Homo sapiens: one gene and its partners. The protein of the gene in region 2 interacts with the protein of the main gene of each other region in a biochemical or structural test. Each region holds a gene or a part of one and is shown on either strand. Other genes may lie near its edges. The genes, in order: NFIX, PAX8 and SKP2.

Region 1 (3,650 bases), on a different chromosome or scaffold from region 2:
CGATTGGGCAAATTGTTTTTGGTCTCCAACTGCCGGGGGCTCTCCCCACCCTCCCTGCTCGCCCGGTTCCCTCCTCCCCTTGGACGCAGCCATTGGCTGCTCGTGGATGTCTCTTTGCCAAATAGGTGGATCCTTCTCTCTCTTTCTCTCTCTCTCTCTCTCTCTCTCTCTGTCTCTTTCTCCCCCCACCCCTTTTTACTGGCTTGGCACAAGCAAATGGATGGGGATTGAGCCTGAAAGGAGAGAGAGAGAGGGAGTTTGAGAGAGAGAAAAGGAGCAAAAAAAAAAAACACCCCAAAAACCCAACCAGTGCGCACACACACGCGCACACTCACACACACGCCCCATCCCATCCACGTCCTCCCTCGATCCTCGATCTCTCCCTCCCCCCCTTCTTCCTTTCCTCCCTCCCTCGCTCCCTCTCTCTCTTTTGCACGCGTCTGCCAGCAACGGTCTGCAGCCGGTCAGAACTCGTCCTCTTCCCCGGGAATCTGCGAGCTCCCCCTTTTCCTCCGATCAGGCAGCTCGAAGTTTACACCCCTGTGCCGCTGCCAAAGCCGAAAGCCTTTTTCTTCAGCTGCCGCTTTTTCCCTCCTGGGTTTTGTTTTTGTTTTTGTTTTGCACGGGGGTGGGGTGGGGTGCGTTGTTGGTTGTGGGGAGATGGTGGGAGGCTGGTTTTGATTTTTAAATTTTGCATTTTTTTCTTTTTTTTTTTTTTTAAACTGGAAGAGGATGCACAGGGGAAGAAATTGAAAAAAAAATTTTGTTGGCTTTTGTTTACCTGGCGTGTGTGGCAGCCGGCTCGCTCCCTCTCTCTGCTTGCTATCCCTGACCTTTCTTTCTTTTTGCTCCTTTTCAAAAAAAATATTAATTTCCCCCTTCTGTGCAATGGAGCATGGGGGGGGGGAGGAGGGGGAAGGGTTTGAGAATCCACCCAAGCCCGGCCCCTATTCCCCAGAACACCAATAATAACCCCCTTTAAAACATTTACCTTCCTCCCCTGCTCCTCCTCCTCCCCCCTCCCCCCACCCGCCCCCAACTCACAACTCTTTTGAGTCCAGAATCTCAGAATCGGGCGTTGGGCTTTGCCGGGTGCTTCAGATCAATGGTAATTATTTAATTTTTTCCAGTTTTATTTTTGTAAACAGAAATCAATTATTATTTAAACTTCAAACAAGCAAACAACCAAAAAAAAAAAAAAAAACCAAACAAAACCGAGAGAGCCCATCCTTCTGTCACCTGACTGAGTGGGAAAAAGGGTGAAGGGGTTGTGGGAGGCTGGGGAAGGGGTCGCAAGAAGACCCATGTAGCTTTTAACCCTAATGTGGCCGAGACAAGCACCTTATTTGTGCTAACAAGAAGTGTTTTGTTCATTATTACTGTGATTAACATTAGTATTGGTGTCGATAACAAAGCTGAAATCACATATTTAGGATTTAGGTCTGATTAAAAAATGTTGGGGTGGATGTTCCAACTGGATCAGGAGAAAAGAAAATGAAAACAGCCTGGGGAGAGGGAAGCCTGATCTGTTTCCTCACTCGCTTGCTCGTGGATGTCATTTTCTGTCTTCTTGGGGGCGGCCAAAAATCGACCGGTGTCGGGGACCAGAGGCGGCCCCGCACGCCCCCGCGTGTGCGTCCACGGGCGTCTGTGCAGACGGACACTGTGCCGGGGCGAGCTGACAGGAGTTCACGGCTGCGATAGAACATGGAGATGTCATGGGCGCGACAGAGCCTGGCGGGGATACCAGCAGCGTGTGTGTGTGGACGGCAACGTTGTCTGTGCGCGTGTGTGTGAGTGAGTGAGGGAGAGAGAGAGAGAATAGGTGTGTGTAGAGGCTCCCGGTGCCTCTGTCTGGCTGCTGAGGCTGAGATGGGAGCAAGTGGCTGGCGAAGCTGGTGGTGGCTTCAAACCACACTTTCGTAGAACAATCGCAAGAGAAAATTGTTGGGGGGAGGGAGGAGGAGGAGAAGGCGGTTTTCCTTGTGCCCCCCCTTCTAACGCTGCTTTTCTCCTTCTCTCTTTCCCCCTCATCCCGTCTTCCCCTCCTCCCGTCCTCCCTCGCCCCGCATGCTCCCGGCTTGCCGCCTGCAGGATGAGTTCCACCCGTTCATCGAGGCACTGCTGCCTCACGTCCGCGCTTTCTCCTACACCTGGTTCAACCTGCAGGCGCGGAAGCGCAAGTACTTCAAGAAGCATGAAAAGCGGATGTCGAAGGACGAGGAGCGGGCGGTGAAGGACGAGCTGCTGGGCGAGAAGCCCGAGATCAAGCAGAAGTGGGCATCCCGGCTGCTGGCCAAGCTGCGCAAGGACATCCGGCCCGAGTTCCGCGAGGACTTCGTGCTGACCATCACGGGCAAGAAGCCCCCCTGCTGCGTGCTCTCCAACCCCGACCAGAAGGGCAAGATCCGGCGGATTGACTGCCTGCGCCAGGCTGACAAGGTGTGGCGGCTGGACCTGGTCATGGTGATTTTGTTTAAGGGGATCCCCCTGGAAAGTACTGATGGGGAGCGGCTCTACAAGTCGCCTCAGTGCTCGAACCCCGGCCTGTGCGTCCAGCCACATCACATTGGAGTCACAATCAAAGAACTGGATCTTTATCTGGCTTACTTTGTCCACACTCCGGGTAGGTCGTTCTCAACCATTTTTCCCTCTCATTTTATTTTCCTTGCTGGCATTTGTTCTGTTTATTGTTCCTCTAATTTCCAAGCGATAACTCGCCATGGGCCTAACTGGTGTATGCCCGTCCTGCGGGGCCTGCAACACGGTTCTATGGGCCCTTTTCCTTTTTCCTGTCTTCTGTCTCCCCCGACCTGTTCTATTCTTCCTCCTCTGCCCCCTGGCCATGGTATCGACTTTGTGCATCTCCATCTTTGGAGGACTTATCTGATCAGAAAGATGCTGCAGGTCTTAGGATTGGGGACATGATGCCCCCAGAATTATCCATGATGGTGAGAGTTTGAGATGAACAACAACAGCAAACCAGTAATTGCTCTTATTAAAATGAGTCAGAAGAAGTATTGAGGGGCAGGTGCTAGTTTTACTGCAGCTTCACCTCCAGTCCCAGGAAAAACTGGGTTTGGTACAAGCGGGATGGGCAGGAGTCCGGTGGAGAGAAGGGGCATGTGAAACCCTGGGATATGAGACTGAATGAACAGAAAAGAGGAGAGAAGACAGTAGTGGGCAGATTCTGTGGCCTAAATACTCAGGCGGGAGCTGTTTTGGCTGGGATTTGGCTGTCAGTATGAAAGTAATTTGATTTCATAGAGAGTGAAAACAAGGACGAGATTCCTTGAGCTCTTTCCCTTCTCCTTATTTCAGCTAAAGTGGCAAGGCCTCAGGATGGATGCCCACAGCCCTGGCACTGGGGAGCAGAGAGGCTTTCTCGGGGCACAGGCATGGCAGGGAGCAGCGTTGCTGTGGAAGAGGTCTTAAACAAGCAAACAAACAAACCAAAAAAAAAAAAAACTCTGTAAAATCTCCTTTTCCTTTTGTGTTCCAAGTAGTTCTGCTTCTCTTCGCTTTTCCAGTTTTACCCTGCATTTTGGGTCAGGGTGGTTTAGTTCTCCTCCTCTGTTCCTTTTTTCCCTTACCCTTTCCCTTTTTATAATTTCTTTCCGCTTTTGTTTTCTTACAAATTGAAACAGAGA
Region 2 (3,650 bases):
GGGGCACAATGGTAGGTGCTGGGAATAAAAACGATGTTTAACGTTTCATGAGGCTTCCCTGTCCTTAAGGAGTCCGCGTGTCTTTGTACCTGTCTGTCTGCTAGATTATTAAGTGACACTGTGAGAAGCTACTGAGAGCAGCATGTGGGACATGCAGAAGGGCAAGAGGCAGGAGAGATGATTCATGTCGGAGGGGCAGGGGAGGACTGACGGAGAGGGTGATGTTTGGCTGAGTCATGAAGGCTAGTGGTATTTTTCCATGCAGAGAAGTGGGAGGAAAGGCATTCTGTGTGGAGGGCACACAGTGTGCAAGGGCAGAGAGGTGTGAGCGAGGGTGGTGAGCTCGGGGCCATGAGTAATGCAAGAGCATGGGGTGTGCAGGATGAGTGGCCAAAGGTGGGGCTAGGAAATAGTGGCTGAGGTCATTATGTGAAGGCTTTGTGCTACTGCTTCAGAGTTGTGGAACGTGATGTTGCAATCTGGGAAAGACGCTGATGGCAAGGGATAGCATCATCAGGTTGTGCTGCCATCCCTGAAAGGCCCAGGCTCAAAGGTTTTGGGTGAAGGAAGCCAGGAGGGTTAGAAAGGGAGGAAGATGCCAGGGCATCTGGTAAAATAAAGCATGTGTCAGGCTTGGAGTTGCATAAGGCAGGTGCCCTGAGCCCATTGATGCAACTTCCAGCTGCTTTGATGGAGCACAGGCTCATTTGGAGAATAGACCTTCTCTGGCCCTTGCCCACCCTGTTCACCTCCCAGGGCCCAGCTTCTCACCTGCTCGCCTTTGGTGTGGCTGGGGGAGGCATAGGCCTCTGGGTAGTGCTGCCGCTCAAATGGGCACTCGAGCGGCTCGAGGTGGTGCTGGCTGAAGGCATCCGTGCGAAGGTGCTTTCGGGGTCCGCTGCTGCTGCTCTGTGAGTCAATGCTTAGTCGGCAGCTATCCTGATCACCTGGTACCCCCCGGGAAGGAAGAAAGCTTTTAGGGGACCTATCTATTCATGCTCTAGGCCAAAGTAGAGGACTGACTCCAAGCTGACTCACTGTGGAGGGAGAAAAAGGGCCAGCCACGTGGGCCCAGGAGCCTTGGCCAACTGAGGGACAGGACATGTGACAGTCACATGCAGAGCCCCTACAAAGTCCCATATCATAAGTGGAAGGGTTTCTGTCCCCATCAAAGCCTGAGCAAACTGCTCTCGTGCACCGCCCGCTGCCCTCCTGTCCCAGCACTCACTGTCATCCATTTTCCTCTTGTCGCTGCCAGGCTGAGCGATGCCCAGGAGCCCATTGATGGAGTAGGTGGAGCCCAGGGAATCCGACTGGGGTGACTCCGGGGGAGTTACAGCTGAGCTGGGGACTGCAGTGGGGGAGAGGGAGAGGGTCAGGGGTGGGAGTGACACCCCTCACAGCCCTGGGTGACTCTGGGGTAGTTACAGTTGAGCTGGGGACTGCAGGGGCTGGGGGAGAGGGAGAGGAGCAAGGGGTGGGACACCCCTTACAGCCCTGGGGTGACTCTGGGGGGACTGCGGTGGTGGGAAGAGGGAGAGGGTCAGGGAGTGAGAGTGACACCCCTCACAGTCCCTGCTGACACTGTGCAGGAGGCAGCAAGCCGAACCATGGACTGAGCCCTGGAGGGGCTCAGGTCCTTCCTCCAGGGGGCCTCCTGGTGGGAGGGATTCTTGGAGTTAGAGCTGTCTCAAGTGTTTGCACCTCTCCATAGTTCAGTGAATCTGCCCTGGGAACAGGCCAGACTTCGTCGCAGTGGCACAACTCAGTCTACACATGGGTTTGTGAATGGTACTGTGCACAGCTATGTCTGTGTGGGTGTGTCTGTGTGTGCCTCTGTGTATATGTGGGTATGCTGAAGGGGAGGTGTACACGAGCATGTGTGTGTATCCAGGTCTCTCAGCACTCACTCAGCGTGTGTCCGGGACTCAGGGACTTGGTGGCCACGCAGCTGTCCATAGGGAGGTTGAATGGTTGCTGCACTTTGGTCCGGATGATTCTGTGATGAAGAGAAGAAAGGCCATGAGAGAGAAGAGGAGGAAAGAGAACTCATGGCTGCCCCAGACCCAGTCGCCTTTTTGACACCCCTTTTGGGTATCTCCAAGGCACTTGAAACTCAACTGTCCACAGTCAAGTCTGTGACCCTACTCCGCATGCCTAGTCCTCCTCAGTTGTCCGCATTTCATGATTGGTACCATCAGTCACTCAAGGCCAAAACAGAGATGGGGCTTAACCTCTGCTTCCCTCTCTTTCCTATCAAACCCATCATCAAGTTCTGTGTTTTGACCTTGTGAACCTTGCCAACGTTGACCCCTCTCTGCGTCTCTCCATCAGCACCTTAGTGCATGTCATCACCAGTGTTCCAGGGTCACTCAGTGGCCCACGCCCATCCCCTCTTGGCCCTTTCTAAGTGATTCTCCCTACTGCAGCCAGAGTGGACTTTCTGAAATGCAAGTTGGCTTAAAATCTGCCAAGGGTTTCCCATTGCTTTATGACCAAAGGCAAGAAGATATAACACAGCCCCCAGCCTCTGAAAGGTCACCTCTGCTGACATCTTCAACTTCAGCCTACCTTGTGCTCCCCTGCTCTTTATCTACTGGTTTTCTTTTCTTTCTTTCTTTTTTTTTTTGAGATAGAGTCTTGCTCTTGTCGCCCAGGCTGGAGTCCAGTGGCGTGATCTCAGCTCACTGCAACCTCTGCCTCCCATGTTCAAGTGGTTTTCCTGCTTCAGTCTCCCAAGTAGCTAGGATTACAGGCACTCGCCACCACACCCAGTTAATTTTTGCATTTTTAGAAGAGATGGGGTTTCACCATGTTGGCCAGGTTGGTCTCGAACGCCTGATCTCAGGTGATCCACCTGCCTTGGCCTCCCAAAGTGCTGGGATTACAGGCATGAGCCACTGCACCTGGCCTATCTACTGGTTTTCTTTTGATCCTATTAGCCACAGGGCCTTTGCATAACTGTCTGAGCTCTTTTCACCTAGTTCTCTTATTGTTTTTTACTCAAGGGAAGACTTTCATGAACTTCATAAACCAAATAATCCTGTGCTACCTTGCATATCTTCATGTTCCTTTTCTTAGCAGGACTTACAGCTGCATTTTTACAATATTTTTTGTAGGTAGTTGATTAATATCTGTGTTCTCATTAGACTGTAAGCTCCGCAAAGATGGGCTTTGTGTGTCCCAGGGCCTAGCACAAAATGAATGAGTGAATTATGTGTGAATGAATTAATGAACAAGCGAGTGAGTAAGTAAATGATTGATTGAGGCAGTGAGTGAATCATTGAGGGACTAAACGAATGAATGCTTGAATGTGGGCTGGGTTAGGGGTCTGATGGCTTAGAAAAGGATCAATTCATGAAGATTCTTTTATTGAATGAAAGCAGATGTGGTGTTTGAGGAAGGAAACTGTAGATAGCACACTATGGCTGGGGGCCAGGGGGAGGGTGCCCCATAGCATGGGGCAAGGGAGGAGGCAGGGAGGTATGATATCTGCCTGGAGCCAGGTGTGCTCCCTGCCTGATTGTTCAGCATCAGGCCCCTTCCCGGCCTCTGCTCCACCCAAGCCAGGCCTTTCTTGTCTCTTTCCTGATTTCCCCAAAGCCCAGGGGCCCCAGCCTGACACCAGAGGCTGCTTTCTCTCTTACCTA
Region 3 (3,650 bases), on a different chromosome or scaffold from region 2:
ATGCTTCCCTCTTAATGGAAGAGTCCAGTCCATTCTTCTTACAGCAAGGCGTAGGGGCCCATTACAATCTGGTCCCTGACTCTCCTCACCTTGTCACTCTCCTCCCTTAGTCCTGTGCTCCAGCAACTTCCAACTACGTAAGAGTTTAGAACCACACAGGAAGTTTTACCTAGACTGGTTGCTTTGTCTTATTACCTAGAGATCTCCTACCTAGATATCTTCAATACTCAAGAGTCACTTCCTCTAACAAGGCGGCTCCTCGTGTGTTGCCACATATTCACTGAAACATTTAATAAACACACTGCATGGTAATTATCTGTCTTGCTCATAAATAGTTTACCTTCTTGCAAGAGAAAATAGACATGTCTTGCTCAATGTTTCCTCTTGCAAGAAGGTAAACTATAGCTTAACCAGCATTCACTAACAAGGTGGGAAAAGTTTTAGAGCATTCATTTTCTTCCCAAATAATACACATGCATTGTTCATCCTTGTACTTGTATCTCTAGAACCTAGCACAGGGCCTGGCATATAGTTAGCATTCAAGCTTTTGTTGCTTCAATGAGTCCTGAAAAGTTTTGCAGAAGCTAGAGCACTGCACTAGATATTTTCTGTATCCACCTGGATATGGCTAGAAGGGCACCCCAGTTATATACAGGGAAAAAAATTCATACACATAAAATCAACTGCCTTTGTGACACTCTGCCTGCCACTCACTTGACAATGGGATCCGAAAGCCGCAGGCCTTCCAGGCTTAGATTCTGCAACTTGGAACACTGAGACAGTATGCCGTGGAGGGTGGACACTTCTATAACTGAGTTCGATAGGTCCATGTGCTGTACACGAAAAGGGCTAAACACGGAGAGAAAAAAGGAGCTCCATAGGTGGCTCTCACGGGTACATCCAATTTCAAACCAGACCCCTCTTCTCCCCAAATGAGCAGCCAATCACAAACAAGACTCTAAATACATACTTCAAGCATTAACTATAGGGTCATAAAACATATTGCTACTAGTGTATTCCCATCTTCATTCATTTTAAAATGCAAGAGGATTTTTGCCAAGTACAGATGTTGCTGCCAATATAGTCCCACTTAGAAAATAACGAGTGGGCATCACAACAATGAGCTGGATGTGGGTGACAAGGAGATTAAGACCATAACGGCTCCTGGTTTCTGGCAGGGGTGAGTGGGTGAGCAGCAATAGAACAGGGAAGGTAGCGGAAGAGAAAGTTTTAAAGGGAGACCAGGCTGGGCGCAGTGGCTCACGCCTGTAATCACAACACTTTGAAAGGCTGAGTCCAGTGGATCACGATGTCAGGATATCAAGACCAGCCTGGCCAGCATGGTGAAACCCAGTCTCTACTAAAAATACAAAAAATTAGTTGGGCGTGGTGGCGCACACCTGTAGTCCCCAGGTGCTCGAGAGGCTGAGGCAGAATTGCTTGAACCTGGCAGGCAGAGGTTGCAATGAGCCGAGATCACGCCACTGCACTCCAGCCTGGGTGACACAGCAAGACTCCGTCTCAAAAAACAAAAACAATAAAAAAAAAGGGAGGCCAAATTTGAGTTATGCTAATATTGAAGTCCTTGTAAGAAATTCAGGTACAGACGTTTTTAGGTAATTAGAAATTTGGGAATTTGAAAGGGAGGGCCAAGCTATAGATGAGGAACTGAGAGTCCTGGGCATAAATGTGGGTGTAGAGGACACAGCTTGTCCAGGGACAGCATTTGGATTTGAAAAAGGTGGCAGCCAGGAACCGACCCTGGAGTGAACAGAGGAAATCACATATGTGAAGGAGACTGAGAAGGAACAGCCACAGGAGGAACAGGATAAAAAGCAGTGGGAGAGGCGGTCCTGACTACGGAAAGAAGGGAAAAAGTACTGGAGTCAGGAGACATGTTTTATCTTTAGCTTTGTTGTCTTCAGCTTGTTTTTCTGTTCAGTACCTAGTTATTCTACTATGTGATAGCAGTAACCTCAGTATTGCAAAATTATCAGAACAGAAAATTCTTTTTCAAAATATTCTACAAAACAAACAAAAAGAGGGCATTTTTTTCAGGTTCCAAATTTCTCCAAGACAAAAATCATAAACCCCAAGCTACAAACATGAAAAGACTCCTCACTTTTTTTTATTTATCAGAAATGGGCATTGGGGAAGTAACTGGGCACCCTTGCATCTGCCAGTGAGTGCTTTACTTGTGCCTGCCTTGTGGGACTCACAGTCCCCCTATCAGCTGAGGACTTGAGAAGACAAATGTGCCTCTTTCACCCTGGGAAGAGACTAACAGTAAACTTGAGTGAAATGGGAACAGTGTCATTGAAATCTATGCTAGGTTTTAGCACAAAGGCCCCATAGCAAAGTATGGAATTAACATCCCACACTGCACAGATAACCTACCATAGGCTTTAAGGCTGAAGAAAGAAAAAAAAAAAAAAAGCTTTGATCTGTTTCTACCTCGAAATTTAGAAATAGTCTTTTCCAGGGATTTTTCATCTTTACCTGAAATGTTCAGCCAATGGTTGGTCCATAAATGATCGTGGGCAGCGGAAGGCAATCACCCCTTGAGACAGCAACCGACCAGTCACATCCGGGTGCAGATTTTTACCTGTGAGGTCTAAGGTCTGCCATAGAGACTCATCAGACCTATAAAAGAGGAGATACTTAATTTGGCCAGTCGGTCACACTAAATGCTGGAAGCCCTCAACAACATTACTAACAGGTAGGACACTGCTGCTAAATCTCCTTGAAGCATATTCTAAAAGAACTTTTGTTTTTAAGTTGGCTATACAATTAGCTATGATATTTTTAAGGCACTAGAGAATTTTTCTTGATTTCACCAGGGATAAGCTTCCATCTTTCTCTTTCTATATACTTCCAATTTAGATGGTTCAATGTGAACATTAGCACTGCCGTGATCTAGAACCAGAGAATCATATTCCAGCATTCAAGTTGACAAATTTAAAAAATGATTGCTCAAATCAATTAATTATTATATTACTAGGCAAATAGGATCCTCTAAGAAGTTTTAAATCTATTTGACACTTTTGTCAAGCAATTATGATTACTGTAGCAACATGGAAAATTACTAAAGGAACGAAAGTTAGCATTATTTTATTATGAAATAAGGCTGTCATAGATATTCAATAGCAACAGTCATGGTTCAGCTGTGCCTTATAATATATTTGAAGCTTAAAACATACACGTGTATATGTATGTGTACATATGTGTGTGTATGAACTAATGTGAAATAAGGGAAAAATACAACGGATTATAGATGGTGTTTCTAAAACAAAAGGGATGTTCTAAAAACGTACTGAATAGCACAGTAAGAGGGTTTTAATATCCATAGTTTAATTCAATTTAAAAAAAGAAAATGTGAAATATAAGCACATGAAGGAACATTTTAAATGCTTAGGTGTACTAGAATTTTCTTTTTTAATAGTGCTTGAAATAAGTGGACCACTGGCCAGAGTTATGAAATAACTTCATCATAAAAAAATTGTCAGTGTGATTTGTGTGACAAATCTATCATTAAAAAGGTGGACTGTAGATAAGATATCCTTAAGAGAGTGGCACACTTTTGTATCTTTCTTGCCCAGACAGAAATCCATTTTGGCCTCCAAGGTATTGGTATTGACACCAGATCAGCA

What was found.
Region 1: the proteins of PAX8 (region 2) and NFIX form a complex in vitro, tested with the Homo sapiens proteins (one study listed by BioGRID).
Region 3: the proteins of PAX8 (region 2) and SKP2 form a complex in vitro, tested with the Homo sapiens proteins (one study listed by BioGRID).

Annotation. Positions count from the first base shown.
Region 1 is NC_000019.10:13,022,927-13,026,576, forward strand, and holds part of NFIX (nuclear factor 1 X-type), read left to right. Parts: intron 1-1,045; exon of another isoform or gene 1,046-1,105; coding exon of another isoform or gene 1,106-1,108; intron 1,109-1,652; exon of another isoform or gene 1,653-1,707; coding exon of another isoform or gene 1,708-1,793; intron 1,794-1,852; exon of another isoform or gene 1,853-2,070; coding exon of another isoform or gene 2,071-2,094; coding exon 2,095-2,626; intron 2,627-3,650.
Region 2 is NC_000002.12:113,240,780-113,244,429, forward strand, and holds part of PAX8 (paired box protein Pax-8), read right to left. Parts: coding exon 3,648-3,650; intron 2,000-3,647; coding exon 1,911-1,999; intron 1,352-1,910; coding exon 1,229-1,351; intron 948-1,228; coding exon 772-947; intron 64-771; exon of another isoform or gene 1-63. UniProt on the Homo sapiens protein: Transcription factor for the thyroid-specific expression of the genes exclusively expressed in the thyroid cell type, maintaining the functional differentiation of such cells.
Region 3 is NC_000005.10:36,165,512-36,169,161, reverse strand, and holds part of SKP2 (S-phase kinase-associated protein 2), read right to left. Parts: intron 2,644-3,650; coding exon 2,500-2,643; intron 850-2,499; coding exon 715-849; intron 1-714. UniProt on the Homo sapiens protein: Substrate recognition component of a SCF (SKP1-CUL1-F-box protein) E3 ubiquitin-protein ligase complex which mediates the ubiquitination and subsequent proteasomal degradation of target proteins involved in cell cycle progression, signal transduction and transcription.